4 linked regions of the Homo sapiens genome follow. The protein of the gene in region 3 purifies or fractionates together with the protein of the main gene of each other region. This does not show direct contact. Each region holds a gene or a part of one and is shown on either strand. Other genes may lie near its edges.

Region 1 (3,500 bases), on a different chromosome or scaffold from region 3:
CTTTTTTGTCCTACTTAATTTTTATGGTTTAGAAAATTTTCTCCCCTTTAGTTTTACTGATTTGTTTACCATATGGATTGTCTTCAGTGATGGTGATTGGCTAAATTAGGTTGAAAATGATAGTGAACATGTATTGAGAGCTCATTGTATGGCAAGCATTACTCTGTGCTCTTTTTTCTTTTCTTTTTTTTTTTTTTGAGATGGAGTTTCACTCTTGTTGTCCAGGCTGGAGTGCAGTGGCGCGATCTTGGCTCACTGCAACCTCCGCCTCCTGAGTTCAGGCAATTCTCCTGCCTCAGTCTCCCAAGTAGCCGGGATTACAGGTGCGCACCACCACACCCTGCTAATTTTGTATTTTTAGTAGAGACGGGGTTTCTCCATGTTGGTCAGGCTGGTCTCGAACTCCCGACCTCAGGCGATCCGCCTGCCTTGGCCTTCCAAAGTGCTGGGATTACAGGTGTGAGCCACTGTGCCTGGCCTTGCTCTGTGTTTTTTAGGTGAATTAGTTGGCTTTATCATTCACACAACCCTCTAAGGGCAGATACTGTCACCATCTCCATTTTTCCAGATGAGGAAAAGGAAGCAAGGAGAAGTACTTGAACTGAGGTTACGGAGCTGTTAACTGGCTGAGCTGAGATTTGAGTCTAGGTAGCTCTGTTCCTTAGCATTATGTTTTCATGATTCTTACTTGTTCATCTCTATATTTAGTCTCTCTGGCTTACAGTTTCATTCTCCTCCCATCCTCTTTGGAGACTGTACCTATATCATTCTGTGATTTTGGGGCAGTGTAGAATCCCTAAAAGTAAATTATGTCATGCTATAGACTCTGTAAAGAAGTATATTTAGATCTTGGACTAGAAATTGAAAAACTAGAATTGCTTTAAATTAAATGTAGAATATTTGGTTTTTTAAAAACATGAAACAGTTTCTTGCTTTGTTAATAGATCTTAGATATGTGTGCAGCACCTGGCTCAAAGACCACACAGTTAATTGAAATGCTACATGCCGACATGAATGTCCCCTTTCCAGGTATGCATTGGACTTGTGTTCAAAATGGTAGGAATGCCACTTTGGCAGATTGTAGACAAGGAAAAGACTCTAACTTTGCCTGCTAATTTGGCTCTAAAGTCTCCTATGACAAGCAGTTGGGTTTTCCGTCTACCGGAAGTAGAACTGGACATCTTGCCTACCACCGTCAGTAGTACTCAAACAAACACACTCATACCATGGGGGAGCTTTATTTTAGAATTATGTGTGTTTTCTATAAAAACGAATGGCATTTCTTTTTTTTTTTTTTGAGATGGAGTCTCACTCTGTTGCCCAGGCTGGAGTGCAGTGGCGTGATGTTGGCTCACTGCAAGTTCCACCTCCTGGGTTCACGCCATTCTCCTGCCTCAGCCTCTCGAGTAGCTGGGACTACAGGTGCCCGCCACCATGCCCGGGTAATTTTTTGTATTTTTAGTAGAGACGGGGTTTCACCATGTTAGCCAGGATGGTCTCGATCTCCTGACCTCGTGATCCGCCCGCCTTGGCCTCCCAAAGTGCTGGGATTACAGGTGTGAGCCACCACGCCCGGCTGCAGATGGTGTTTCTTTATCAAGCCTACTTACAGAAGATAGATTTCACTGTTTGAATTTTTAGTAACAATTTCCCCTTTCCCCCACCTTTGTTCATTATTATTACTATTATTATTATTATTATTACTTACTGCCTTACATGAAGGGTAGTAGTGTGTAGTTAAAAGCTACCATCAGACTCCCTGGGTTCAAATCCTAATCGGCAAGTTACTTACAGTGTTAGACATCCCATGTGAAATGGGACGAATCAGTATGTAGCTTGCGAGGTGCTCAGGAAATGTTAGCTGTTATAGTGACACCACGCCCCTTTCTCTTAAGTGGAAACAAATACCCATCGTGATGTTTTAGAGTCAGCTTTCATCTCGTCCTATCTTTGTTCAGGCAAACTTCTCTAGTTCTGTTTTAATAGGCATATTTGTTAGGTCTGTTTTTTGAAATCCTCTTTTTTACATTGTTTAAAGATAATGCCTTGGCTAAAAAGCCTGCTTCACTTTTCCCTGTTTTTAGTTGTTTTCTCCACATTGGCAGTAAAGAGCCTTGGCGTCCCAGTAGCAGCAGGTTCTCCTTTTTGTATTGTGGATGTTTTGCATTTCATACTGTTGTGAAGAGTGGCTTTGATCATACATGTTGTTGGTATATTTGCCTTTTTGCTGGGGGTGTGAGAAGAACCAGAGATGAGCAGAGGTACACCCAGTAGACTTCCCAGCCTGCAGAGCCTCCCGGGAAGAGCTTCCGTGTTCAGGTGCTTGGGGCCCCACCCTAGGAGCCTGACTCACAGTCAGAGCAGGGTCCCGGCTTGTGTTCAGGATTTTGAAACATTTGTAAGGTGATTTTGTTGTTTCTACACCTTTCTCCTCATCTTTTTTTTTTGTAGTTAATCGTTACTAATAACAGAAAAGACATTTTTGGCATGGTAATTGGCACAAAGTGAATAATTGTTGAATAGATGACTTTTGAGGCTTTCAAAATTCGAGTGTCCATAAAATCCATCCAGAGCCACCTGGTTCCTTTTTTTGAACCACTTAACGTAATTCTGGAAAACCTTGACTGTGGGTCTTAAGTTTGGTGGATTGCTGCTTCTCACTGGCTGACCTTTGGAGGTCGCATATTTCAGGATGTGATTCCACTTAGGCTCCATTTCACCTGACACTGCAATTCTGTGCCTTCAGAGGGATTTGTTATTGCGAATGATGTGGACAACAAGCGCTGCTACCTGCTCGTCCATCAAGCCAAGAGGCTGAGCAGCCCCTGCATCATGGTGGTCAACCATGATGCCTCCAGCATACCCAGGCTCCAGATAGATGTGGACGGCAGGAAAGAGATCCTCTTCTATGATCGAATTTTATGTGATGTCCCTTGCAGGTATTTATCTTATTGGCCAAAAAGCCCAAATCCACTAAAGAAATCAAGTCAAATAGAGACTAAAATGAAGTTGTGCATGAATATGACACAATTGTACATAAGTCTTGGGGTGCGGAGAAAGATAGCGTGAGCCTAAACCAAAAGATGGACACGTAGATACGTCTTAATGAGAAGCAGCACAGCAGATGCTGGATAAAGAACAGAAAGGGGTGGTTGCAATAGCCTGCAGAAAGATAAAGAGAAAACAAAACAAAACAGAGAAAATACGTAAGAGGAAAATAGAATCGTAGACTCTTATTGTGGTGTGTTTTAGGATGTTATTGCTTGGAACAATTTGTGCACCCCAACTATTTTGTATTAGTTCTTCCAGTGAGTACAGTATATAAAAAACTTTGTCATAAAATAATACGTAATCACATTGGATTTTATGTTATTTAGTTGAATGAAAGAAATTTCGGAGTTCAAGCCCTTAAGAAATTCATTTTGCTTGTGTTTTTATACCTTTCTTGAGATAATACATCAACATTTTAGATATTTAGAGTTTAGATATAAAATAATACT
Region 2 (3,500 bases), on a different chromosome or scaffold from region 3:
TGTAAATTGGTAAAATTACGTTTAAGTTTCTCAGACAGGAGTACTAATGATTTTGTCTCTTGCAGCCACGTATGGACCAGTACTTTAATCAGATGGAGAAAATTGTGAAAGAAAGAAAAACCTCATCTAGGATTCGGTTCATGCTTCAAGATGTTATAGACCTAAGGCTGGTGAGTGGGAAAAAAAATAATAATAAGCCTGCTGGTCCAGTCTCTTTAAAGGAATTGGGTTGGGGAAGGATGTCCTGTTGTTTACATGTGTAAAGATAGTGCTTTTGCTTCAGGACTCAGAATTTGGATTGGCAAACTTTCCGTGGGAGAGTTCTGAGAAGGGACAAAAGGCCTATTGCCAGTTACGTGCTTCTTCTCCTTATTCTGATTATCAAACCATATTGCAATTTTGTTTGCGCTTTGTTTTTTTTTTTGAGATAGAGTCTCACTCTGTCGCCCAGGCTGGAGTGCAGTGGCTCAATCTCGGCTCACTGCAGCCTCCGCCTCCCAGGTTCAGATGATTCTTCTGCCTCAGCCTCTGGAATAGCTGGGATTACAGGCACATGCCCCCACACCTGGGCAATTTTTGTATTTTTAGTAGAGACAGGATTTCACGCTGTTGGCCAGGCTGGTCTGGAACTCCTGACCTCAAATGATCTGCCCACCTCAGCCTCCCAAAGTGCTGGGATTACAGGCGTGAGCCACCACGCCCAGCCACTTGCAATTTGTAATCAGCCATTCTGAATTCAAACTCCATTCAAATGTAAATTCAATTAAATTTAGTCTTTGTGAGCTAAATAATCAGCAAGTCTCATCTCCACAGTAAATACCTTTAACTCTCTGAGCCTTACATTTTTAATCTCTAAAATGAGGATGTTGCCTACCTTGCAGATTTGTTGAAGAGTCAATGGAATAATTACGTAAGGTGCCCAGCTCAGATATTGGTGTTTTCTTCTCTTTCGTTTTTCCTGTGACCCTCCTATTCTGCTGCTGGGTTTTTTTTGTTTTTTTGTTTTTTTGTTTTTCTCATTTCTCTTACCGGGTGCAGTTTTTGTTACTACTACTTTTCTCTGTTTTAAGTTTAACTCCTACAGGGAGTTACTCTTTTGTAAGTTTCACTCCTACAGGGAATATACTACATCAAGCCCTACACTAGAGAAAGTGAACAAAGCCCTACCTCTTATTTCTCCTCCACCCAGGCCAGATAGCATTGATGATGATTCTTTATCTTGCTAAGACTAGATGTGGTTGTCTTCACCCATGTTATCAACCACTTATATCAGATGTTGGGACTGTTGCTAGAAAGAGAAGGGAGAAGTATAAAGTGACAACTTATTTTGTCCTTAATACAGGGGATAACCAAAGGGCAGAGTGGTATGGACCTTTGTGTAGAATATCAGAACCATGATATTGGAGAAATAAAAGCATGAGTCATCCTTGACTTAGAACCCCTATGGAATGTGATATGATCTGAGTAGTAATCCCACAGATTAAGGCAAGGCCAAGGAATCCTCATCATTTTTATTTTTCTCTCCTCCTTTCAAATGTACAAAATACTGATACAGATAAAATCCATTTAGTCCACAGAGAAATATATGCCATGCTTAAAAATATAATAATAAATTTGGGCCAGTCTTTCACCCTGTTCTTTGTATCCATTGGCTATTGGAATATGTAGTATACAATTGGCCAGTTTTGACTGAGAAGATTTTAATCCTTCAGCTCTAATCCTAAACTGCTCATAGTGTCATCTATAAGATACATGAGAAACTGCCATAATACAGCTTTTGTAGGTATTTTGTACTTTTCCAGTAGTAAAAATTGCTAATTTTTAAATTTTAAAAAATGTTCAGTTTATCTGGCAGATAACCTTATTTTCTGCTTTTATAGTGCAATTGGGTATCTCGAAGAGCAGATCAAGGGCCTAAAACTATCGAACAGATTCACAAAGAGGCTAAAATAGAAGAACAAGAAGAGCAAAGGAAGGTCCAGCAACTCATGACCAAAGAGAAGAGAAGACCAGGTGAGGCCGGAATCCACCAGGGTTTAGAGAACTTGGAAGTTTCAGGAATACATATTAAGAATTATGTATTTAGGTATAAAATGAGATCAGAAAGAACAGCCCAAAGAATAGAGTGGTGATTGTTAGGTGAAGCAGTTTCACCTGAAGAGTAAAGTTACTGAGTAAAAGTAGAGAATGCAGGAACAAAGCATGATTTCTTTCACTACTTAAAAGCCAGTAAGCAATAAGACTTTATTGAGCATCTTCTATATACTCAGAATTGGTGAGACGAGAAAAGGAAGTGGAAAATGTAGTTACTTCCCTCTCAAAGTGTACAGTTTATCTGGTAAGGTAAAACTTTTGACAAGCAAAAGAGGAACATTTGTTAAGCAAATGGAAGATAGTATATCAATTATGAAATGTGTTCTCCATTAACTGTTAAAATTTAGAGAAAAAGAAGAGAGACAGAAAGCTGAAAGAAAACTTTATTTAAGAAAGGGGCACTTTGTAGCAGGCCGGACGCAGTGGCTCATGCCTGTAATCCCAGCACTTCGGGAGGCTGAGGTGGGTGGATCAATTGAGGTCAGGAGTTTGAGACCAGCCTGACCAACATGATGAAACCCCGTCTCTACTAAAAAATTTGCTGGACATAGTGATGTGTGCCTGTAGTCCCAGCTATTCAGGAGGTTGAGGCAGAAGAATCACTTGAACCTGGGAGGTGGAGGTTGCGGTGAGCCGCGATCGCGCCACTGCACTCCAGCCTGGGGAACAGAGTGAGACTACATCTCAAAACAAAACAAAACAAAAATAGAGACATGCAAAAAAAGTGAAAGATGAAGTAGAAGGCATTTTAAACCTGAGACGATAGTCCATTTACTAAGTTTAGGAACGTTGGAAAAGAAAACCTTTTTCAGAGGGAAATGATAATTTTCTGGCTGATAGTAAATACTCAGTAACCATTAGTTATTGTCACAGACACAGTAGAGCTCATAGTGAAGTTGTTAGGAGAGATGAATTCTGCATGGAAGAAAGTTTACTTTTAAGTTTCTTGAGATACCACACTTACCTTCCTCGCTCTAGTACCTAGTGCAGTGCCTTTTGGGTAATAACTTTTATTTATTATTGAACCAGATTGAGAGGGAAAAGGAGAAGATACCAAAGCCTAATTCATGGAGGATATTCACATATGACTAAAGGAAGAAAAGAACTCTTGGAAAAGTGCCAGACAAGTGGAGAGAAAGGACTAAGATACAAGTGTCATAGAGACAAGGAAGAAGCAAGTCTGTTTATGATCAGTAATATCAGATAGCACGGAGAAAATCAAGACGTTATGTTAGGACCAGAAAAGCTTTTGGATAGACAGTTCGGTGATCTTTCAATTTATTAATTCATTCAGCAAGTATTTTTTTTTGAGATGAGTCTCGCTCTGTCGCCCAGGCTGGAGTGCAGTAGCGCGATCTCGGCTCACTGCAACCTCCGCCTCCCGGATTCAAGCAGTTCTCTGCCTC
Region 3 (5,160 bases):
TTATTATTTCTTAATTATTTTCTTAAGATAAATCCCTAAAAGTAGTATTACTGGGTCAAAGAGCATACATATTTTTAAGGCTTGTGATGATGTGCGGAAGTATTATGCCGGTTTTCTGTCCCACAAAAAGTGTATGCCAACATCTGGAAGAATTATTTCTATAAATGATTTTTAGGATCGTATGAACAACATTAACTATGCCTTTATCTGCTGAAACCAACTTCTTTCCTTTTTTTTTTTTTTTTTTTTTTTTTTTGAGATGGAGTCTTGCTCTGGTCCCCCAGGCTGGAGTGCAGTGGCTCGATCTCTGCTCACTGCAAACTCCGCCTCCCAGGTTCAAGCGATTCTCCTGCCTCAGCCTCCTGACTAGCTGGGATTACAGGCGCCTACCACCACGCCCAGCTAGTTTTTTTTTTGTATTTTTAGTAGAGATGGGGTTTCACCATGTTGGCCAGGCTGATCTCGAACCCCTGACCTTGTGATCCGCCCACCTCGGCCTCCCAAAGTGCTGGGATTACAGGTGTGAGCCACCGTGCCTGACCTTTTTTTTTTTTTTTTTTTTTTTTTTTAAGACAATGTCTCACTCTGTCGCCCAGGCTGGAGTGCAGTGGCACTATCTTAACTCACTGCAACCTCTGCCTCCCGGGTTCAAGCAATGCCCCTGCCTCAGCCTCCCAAGAGCTGGGACTATAGGCGCCTGCCACCCACGCCTAACTAATATTTAGTAGAGATGAGGTTTCACCATGTTGGCCAGGCTGGTCTTGAACTCCTGACCTCAAGTGATCTGCCTGCCTTAACCTCCCTCAAAACGCTGGGATTACAGGTGTGAGCCACCGCGCCCGGCCTGAAACCAGCTTTTATATAGGTGATTGTTACTTTCTACTCTTTCCTAACAGGTTTTCTTAAATGTTTTCTTGGAGCCTTAAAGATGGAGATGACAGAAATGACTGGTGTGTCGCTGAAACGTGGGGCACTGGTTGTCGAAGATAATGACAGTGGAGTCCCAGTTGAAGAGACAAAAAAACAGAAGCTGTCGGAATGCAGTCTAACCAAAGGTCAAGATGGGCTACAGAATGACTTTCTGTCCATCAGTGAAGACGTGCCTCGGCCTCCTGACACTGTCAGTACTGGGAAAGGTGGAAAGAATTCTGAGGCTCAGTTGGAAGATGAGGAAGAAGAGGAGGAAGATGGACTTTCAGAGGAGTGCGAGGAGGAGGAATCAGAGAGTTTTGCAGACATGATGAAGCATGGACTCACTGAGGCTGACGTAGGCATCACCAAGTTTGTGAGTTCTCATCAAGGGTTCTCGGGAATCTTAAAAGAAAGGTACATTTAGTTTATGAATAAAGTTATTTTGATTGTATTAGGTTTCTTCTTTAGAAAGAAATTAGCTTTATATTCTTCCACTTAGCTTTCCATCTCCAAGGCTTGTTTATACTACTGATCAAAAGGAATAGGATGAAGGAAACCTGCCTGAATAAATAGCCTTGGATTTTTAAATTTTAATTAATTAATTTTTTCCCTTTTTTTGAGAGAGGGTCTCACTCTGTCACCCAGGCTGGCATGCAGTGGCATGATCATGCCTCAAATAAATTCATTCACCAGGCACAGTGGCTTACGCCTGTTATCCCAGCACTTTGGGAGGCCGAGGCTGGCGGATCACTTGAGGTCAGGAGTTTGAGACCAGCCTGGCCAACATGGTGAAAGCACATCTATACTAAAAATACAAAAATTAGCTGGGCGTGGTGATGGGCACCTGTAATCCCAGCTACTCGGGAGGCTGAGGCAGGAGAATAGCTTGAACCTGGGAGGTGGAGGTTGCAGTGAGCCGAGATTGCACCACTGCATTCCAGCCTGGGTGACAGAGCAAGACTCTGTCTCAAAAAAATAAGTAAATGAATAAATTCATTTAAATGGTTTCAGATTTTCTCCTGAGTTTGTTTTATAATCTTAAACTCTTTTTTCATTTGAATGTGCCACAACTATGTTAGAAGAAGGTAGTCTTTGGAGCCAGGTGGATCCCAGTGTGAAGTTCGCTACTTAGTAGTTACTTAGCCTCTCTGAACCTCAGCATCCTTATTTAAAAAATGGATCAGGCCAGACACGGTGGCTAACGCCTGTGATCCCAGCACTTTGGGAGGCCAAGGCGGGCAGATCACTTGAGGTCAGGAGTTTGAGACCAGCCTGGGCAACATGGCGAAACCCTGTCTCTACTAATAATACAAAAATTAGCCTGGCGTAGTGGCACGCGCCTGTAATCCCAGCTACTCGGTAGGCTGAGGCAGGAGAATCACTTGAACCCAGGAGGCGGAGGTTGCAGTGAGCCAAGATCAAGCCACTGCACTCCAGCCTGGGCAACAGAGCAAGACTCTGTCTCAAAAAAAATAATAGTAATAAAATAAAATTTTTAAATGGATCATATTACCACATTGGGGTTGTTGAGGATTTTGAATAATGCATGTAAAATATTTAACATAAAGGTAAGCTTCAGGCTAGTTCATGGTAGACTTACTGGGTTCTGATTCAATTAACCATATAGCATATTTTGTGATTTAATTTAGTGTGGGCTGCCTGAATCGTCATAGGGTAATGTTAATAAGCTTTTGTTTTTGCATTTCTCTGGAAGAATATTCTAGAAGCTAAGAGGGTCTTTTCTTTAAGTTCTCATATAAAACTTGAGCCAAGGTATGGCTCAGCATTCATTAAGAAACCAGAAAAGACCGGATGTGGTGATTCACGCCTGTAATCCCAGCACTTTGGGAGGCCAAGATGGGCAGATCACTTGAGGTCAGGAGTTCAAGATCAGCCTGGCCAAAATGGTGCAACCCCGTCTCTACTAAAAATACAAAAATTAGCTGGGCGTGGTGGCACGTGCCTGTAATCCCAGCTACTCGGGAGGCTGAGGCGGGAGAATCACTTGGACCCAGGAGGCGGAGGTTGCAGTGAGTGGAGATCGAGCCACTGCACTCCAGCCTAGGCAACAGAGCAAGGCTCCATCTCAAAAAAAAAAAAGAAAAAAAAAATTAACTCCATGTGATTTTGCACTGAAGATTTTTTAAAATTCCTTGTTTTGCATAATAGTAAGGCTTGCTGTTGATCAACTTTATCTTAAAATTAATAGAAAACAGGATGTTAATTATCTGAAAGTTCATGTTTTCTTTCATCAGATACTCCGACTTCGTTGTTCATGAAATAGGAAAAGATGGACGGATCAGCCATTTGAATGACTTGTCCATTCCAGTGGATGAGGAGGTAGAAGTAGCTCTTTAGCAAATGTCACCTTCTGTATAAAAATAGCATTTCCTAGAGATTTAGAAATATAGAGCTTTATTAAACTTGAATTCTATGTATGATTCATTGTGAGTTCTCATGGTTATTTTAAAGGACCCTTCAGAAGACATATTTACAGTTTTGACAGCTGAAGAAAAGCAGCGATTGGAAGAGCTCCAGCTGTTCAAAAATAAGGAAACCAGTGTTGCCATTGAGGTAACTAATGCAAAAATATATGAAAAATTATTTAGGGTTTTAGTTGCTTTTTGGGTGGATGTTAAGTGTTTATGGAAAAAATTACAATGGTTAACAAAGGGTGACTTTTTGCTCTATTGGATCTAAAGGATATTACACTAAAAAATTTTTTTACTGGGGCAGATAACTAGTATCCCAGATAAACTATAGCCCCCCCCAAAGTTACATTTTTGTTTAAAAACATTTTTATTTGGGTACAGTGTTACATGCTATTCCAAAGTCCTAGCTACTCCGAAGGCTGAAGCCAGAGGTTTACTTGAGCCCAGGAATTGGAGACTAGCCTGGACAACATAGTGAGACATCATCTCTGAAAAAAAAATTTAGGGACCACAAATGAACAGCGACATATGTTGTTTAGAATCCCAGAGTACCAATTATACCACAATGTCCGTTGTAACAGGACCACCATTTGCTGTCTGTCAGGTATGTGACCCAGGTCAGATTCTGGCTTCAGCAGCTTCTTGGCCTCAGTTGGGACTCTGGGAAGGGGAGGAAATGGGGAAAGGAAGTAGGGGAGCATTTATTTGCTCATCGTGGGTCAATTCTGCTATTGAAGAAAAGGAGAGCTCAGCTACTAAGTAGAATAGTAAATTTTGTTGTTAAAGCTTTTGTTCGCCGGGCACGGTGGCTCACACCTGTAATCCCAGCACTTTGGGAGGCCAAGGTGGGCGGATCACTTGAGGTCAGGAGTTCAAGACCAGCCTGGCCAACATGGCGAAATCCCGTCTCTACTAAAAATACAAAAAAATTAGCCAAGCGTGGTAGCGCAGGCCTGTAGTCCCAGCTACTTGGGAGGCTGAGGCAAGAGAATCTCTTGAACCTAGGAGACAGAGGTTGCAGCGAGCAGAGATCATACCACTGCACTCCAGCCTGGGCGGCAGAGCGAGACTCCATATCAAAAAAAAAAAAAAATTATGTTAAATTAATTTTGTACTACATTTTAATGAGCTATGGGGTTTTCGGTTGTCTGAAATTCCCCCTCCCAGCACTCCTAGTTAATAAGCGTACTACAACTTTTCAGAATTCATTATCTGCTCCTTGTCTCCCTCCTTACCTGAGCTTCCCAAAAGCGTGTGGTATTGCAATGTTAGAAATCTTCCATTACTGAAAAAATCTTTAGACAAAACCTTTAGCAATGCCAAGAGGAAAATTCCTGGCAGATTTCTAGAGCAATCCAGAAGGATGGTCCAAGTTTCCTTTGCTTGTACAATGCAGAGGTTTATCTTAGGCTTATAATATGTATTTTCGTATACATGTGGTAAAATTTACTATTGTCTTAAAAACTGAGGTTTTCCTATCTACTGAAAGTCTGTACATTTAAAAGGCATAAACTATGGGCAAGCTTCCTCATTTGTAAAATGAAGATGGACTTTCTGAGTTTTTGAGGTCTAAACATGTATTCATATACACAAACTGTCGTTCTCCTTGCTATCAGTAATTTCAGATCTAGACTCACTTTTTGCTATGAAGAAGTCATTTACCTGTAATCGTAATGTAGTTTGGTGGATTTTTTTCATTTTTTATTTTGTTGAAGTATCATTAAGTTGCTGGGCGCAGTGGCTCACACCTGTAATCCCAGCACTTTGGGAGGCCGAGGTGGGTGGATCACCTAAGGTCAGGAGTTCGAGACCAGCC
Region 4 (3,500 bases), about 13 Mb from region 3:
TTATCTTCTGTTCAAAGATTACATACTTCCATTATCCTGTCAAAAAAAAAACTCTGATACAGAATCAAGCATGTGAATCGTAAGCATGTAAGCAGGTTTCATAGAGATAATTTTTCAACTCTTCCTTGTCCTGTGTTGTTCCAACTCTTATTCTCCAATTTAGAAGCAAACAAATAAATGAATGAAAGAACAGATAGACAAATGAATAGTCAAAGGTATAAAGTATCTGTATATATGTTACATGTAGCTATTATTTAAATTATTTAGATTTTCCTTTTGAAATACCTTCTTGGCACACTTGCCTAAATCTAGAAAATAAGCACTGTGTGAATAAGAAATTATTTACACTGAATATTTTGTAGGTTTTTGGGTTTTTGTTTTTCAGACAAGGTCTCACTTTGTCACCCAGGCTGGAGTACACTGGTACGATCACAACTCACTGCAGCCTCTATGGCCCAGGCTCAAGCAATCTCCCCACCTCAGCCTCCCGAGTAGCTGGGACCACAGGCACACGCTACCATGCCCAGATAATTTTATTATTAATTTTTGTATAGAGATGGGGTCTCCCTGTGTTGCCCAGGCTTTCTTGAACTCCAGGGCTCAAGTGATCCTCCCACCTCAACCTCCCAAAGTGTTGGGATTACAGGCGTGAGCCACCATGCCCAGCCTTAAGAGTGTTTGATTTTCATTCATTTTCCTATATATATTATTTCTGTTGGGGAAAAAATTCCAAGGAAGATAAATAGTAGGCTGTTGGTACATTTCTCAACTTACTTATAAAGCTTTTTAGATATATAAGGTTAATTTATGAAGAAAATCATAAGATACACAATTTAAGATAATATTTTTAATTTTATTTTTTATTTGTTAAATAAATTTTTCTCCTTTCAGGTGTCACGTCTTGAAATTTTAAATGTCCTCAGTGACTCTCTACCTCTGGCAGATGATGTTGACCTTCAGCATGTAGCATCAGTAACTGACTCCTTTACTGGAGCTGATCTGAAAGCTTTACTTTACAATGCCCAATTGGAGGCCTTACATGGAATGCTGCTCTCGAGTGGACTCCAGGCAAGTTATATGAGGAAGTTGTTATGACATTTTATGAGTGATAAAAGAAGTACAATGTCAAAATTTCCACCTTAAAAAATGCTATTTTTTAAACAACTTTGGTAAAACTGTATAGAAACATAAATTTACCTTTAGTTGAATGTTCCATAGTTGGAATATGGGTTTTGCAGAGAATTTATAATTATGAAGTTTGATGTCTGTTTCTTTAACATTACCTTAATATTGGCAAAAACATGTTGGTGTTTGCAAGGATATTATTTAAATTGGGATACCATGAATTAAATACTACAAACAAAAATAATTAGAGTTTTTTGTTTGTTTGTACTTTAACTTTTAAAAAATAATCAGTTAAAGTTGTTGTTTTGAAGCTCACATTGTTCCAATCTGGCCAATAGGAGCCCCTTTTGTATGGCTCCTGTATCTTTATGACATGTCCTCATCATTCTTGAATCACTTCCTCACTTCCAGATACAGTAAGTTATTCTTGGCCAGGTGCAGTGGTTCACGCCTGTAATCCCAGCACTTTGGCAGGCCAAGGCAGGAGGATCATTTGGGCCTAGTTTGAGACCAAATCATGGTTGCACAAACTGTACCCACTATGGACAACAGAGTGGGATCTTGTCTCTGTGAAAAATTTAAAAATTAGCTGGGCATGGTGGCACATACCTGTAGTCCTAGCTTCTTGGGAGAGGCTGTGGCAGGAGGATCGCTTGAGTAAATCCAGGATGCAGTGAGCCATGCTTGTGCCACTGCACTCCAGCATGGATGACAGAATGAGACCCTGCCCCCAAAAAAGAAAAATATTCTTGGTTTATCTTGTACTTTCTGTATCCCAGCCCTAGCATCAGCCTTTTCTCTAAAGACAGTATTATGATTTTAATATTTACAGTAGATATTTGAACTGTTACATTATAGACTTTACCATATATTTTCTAGGAAGGATTATTCTATTACTCTTCTTTACCACATTTGTTTGGAATGTCTACAGAACCTACAGTTTCTAAATCAGAAACTCCCTAGGTTTTTGCTATTTTGGCAAGCCATTGAAGTTCTTCCCTCTCCCTTTACTACCAGAAAGGTGTGTATTTGTAGAGCTCTCTATAATGAGAAAGCACTCTATAACATGGTTGATTCATCATTTTGGAGTAGAAAAGTATGAATGGAAAGTCAGAGACATAAAAATAAAGCCCAGAGGTCTGAGTCTTAGCTTCATTACAGACTTTCTTGGGGGATGGTTGGTAAATTATCTACACATTCTATCTTGTCTTTATAATTTTAATAGTTAAATTTTTACCATGTGCCTCAAAACCGTTAGAGAATTAATGAGCTCTTTGAAAAATGCTTCTAAGTTTCTTGTATTGCTCTAATAGAATGCTATCTATGTTATTATTTATTTCTGAGACTAAAATTGTTTACATCTTTAAACTGGTTGTCCTTTTGTGTATTTTAGGATGGAAGTTCCAGCTCTGATAGTGACCTAAGTCTGTCTTCAATGGTCTTTCTTAACCATAGCAGTGGCTCTGACGATTCAGCTGGAGATGGAGAATGTGGCTTAGATCAGTCCCTTGTTTCTTTAGAGATGTCCGAGATCCTTCCAGATGAATCAAAATTCAATATGTACCGGCTCTACTTTGGAAGCTCTTATGAATCAGAACTTGGAAATGGAACCTCTTCTGATTTGGTATCTTGTGCAGTCATCATTATACAGTTCTGAAATATAAAGCTATATGTTGGTGTAAAGTTGCAGTGATTTCTCTCCTAACCAGCCCCACATATTCTTCCTGGTTGGTTGGTTCTTCAGTAAAATAGTCTTGTTTCTTGCTTACACTAATTGGTAATTTGCATTCCTTGTTAAGATTTTCAAGACAGGGCTGGGAGCAAGGAACCAAAGTAGCGCGTGGTTGTGATTACCTTTGGTTTCTTTGAGGTTTCTCTTACCTAGTGGCTTTAAAACATCTTTAGGAGCAGTTCCATTTTATAGTAAACTTAAATTCTGTTATCATGAACAGTTGAGGATAATGAATAATTTGATACAATAATGTAAGAAATTCCTGAAAACAAAGTGTTATCTGTGATACTTTTGCTGCATAGTAAGCACAATGAAGTGTACTGATAATGTTTCAACAGGAAAGTGTTTTGATTAAATGTGGGCAGTATCACTGTTCTACTAGCATTCAACATCTCTTCTAAAAATTAATAGTGGTTCACTGTAATTTTATTGGTACATGTAACATCTGTACATGTGTTTGGTTATCTATATGTTTCCTGGTTTTTTGTACATTTGCTTTATTAATTTAGGCTTTTTTTTTTTTTTTTTTTTGAGACAGTCTCACTCTATCATCCAGACTAGAGTGCAGTGGCACAATTATGGCTCACTGCAGCCTTGACCTCCTGGGCTTAGGTGATTCTTCCACCTCAGCCTCCTGAGTAGC

The links.
Region 1: the proteins of PUS7 (region 3) and NSUN2 fractionate together in Homo sapiens (co-fractionation; one large-scale study listed by BioGRID). This does not show direct contact.
Region 2: the proteins of PUS7 (region 3) and EIF4G3 fractionate together in Homo sapiens (co-fractionation; one large-scale study listed by BioGRID). This does not show direct contact.
Region 4: the proteins of PUS7 (region 3) and PEX1 purify together in Homo sapiens (affinity purification with mass spectrometry; one large-scale study listed by BioGRID and IntAct). This does not show direct contact.

Annotation. Positions count from the first base shown.
Region 1 is NC_000005.10:6,619,545-6,623,044, reverse strand, and holds part of NSUN2 (RNA cytosine C(5)-methyltransferase NSUN2), read left to right. Parts: intron 1-944; coding exon 945-1,029; intron 1,030-2,746; coding exon 2,747-2,939; intron 2,940-3,500. UniProt on the Homo sapiens protein: RNA cytosine C(5)-methyltransferase that methylates cytosine to 5-methylcytosine (m5C) in various RNAs, such as tRNAs, mRNAs and some long non-coding RNAs (lncRNAs).
Region 2 is NC_000001.11:20,858,898-20,862,397, reverse strand, and holds part of EIF4G3 (eukaryotic translation initiation factor 4 gamma 3), read left to right. Parts: intron 1-65; coding exon 66-170; intron 171-1,880; coding exon 1,881-2,013; intron 2,014-3,500. UniProt on the Homo sapiens protein: Component of the protein complex eIF4F, which is involved in the recognition of the mRNA cap, ATP-dependent unwinding of 5'-terminal secondary structure and recruitment of mRNA to the ribosome. Functional homolog of EIF4G1.
Region 3 is NC_000007.14:105,504,281-105,509,440, reverse strand, and holds part of PUS7 (pseudouridylate synthase 7 homolog), read left to right. Parts: intron 1-896; 5' UTR 897-928; coding exon 929-1,326; intron 1,327-3,167; coding exon 3,168-3,252; intron 3,253-3,384; coding exon 3,385-3,486; intron 3,487-5,160. UniProt on the Homo sapiens protein: Pseudouridylate synthase that catalyzes pseudouridylation of RNAs.
Region 4 is NC_000007.14:92,490,521-92,494,020, reverse strand, and holds part of PEX1 (peroxisomal ATPase PEX1), read left to right. Parts: exon of another isoform or gene 1-891; coding exon 892-1,068; exon of another isoform or gene 1,069-2,518; coding exon 2,519-2,749; exon of another isoform or gene 2,750-2,778; intron 2,779-3,500. UniProt on the Homo sapiens protein: Component of the PEX1-PEX6 AAA ATPase complex, a protein dislocase complex that mediates the ATP-dependent extraction of the PEX5 receptor from peroxisomal membranes, an essential step for PEX5 recycling.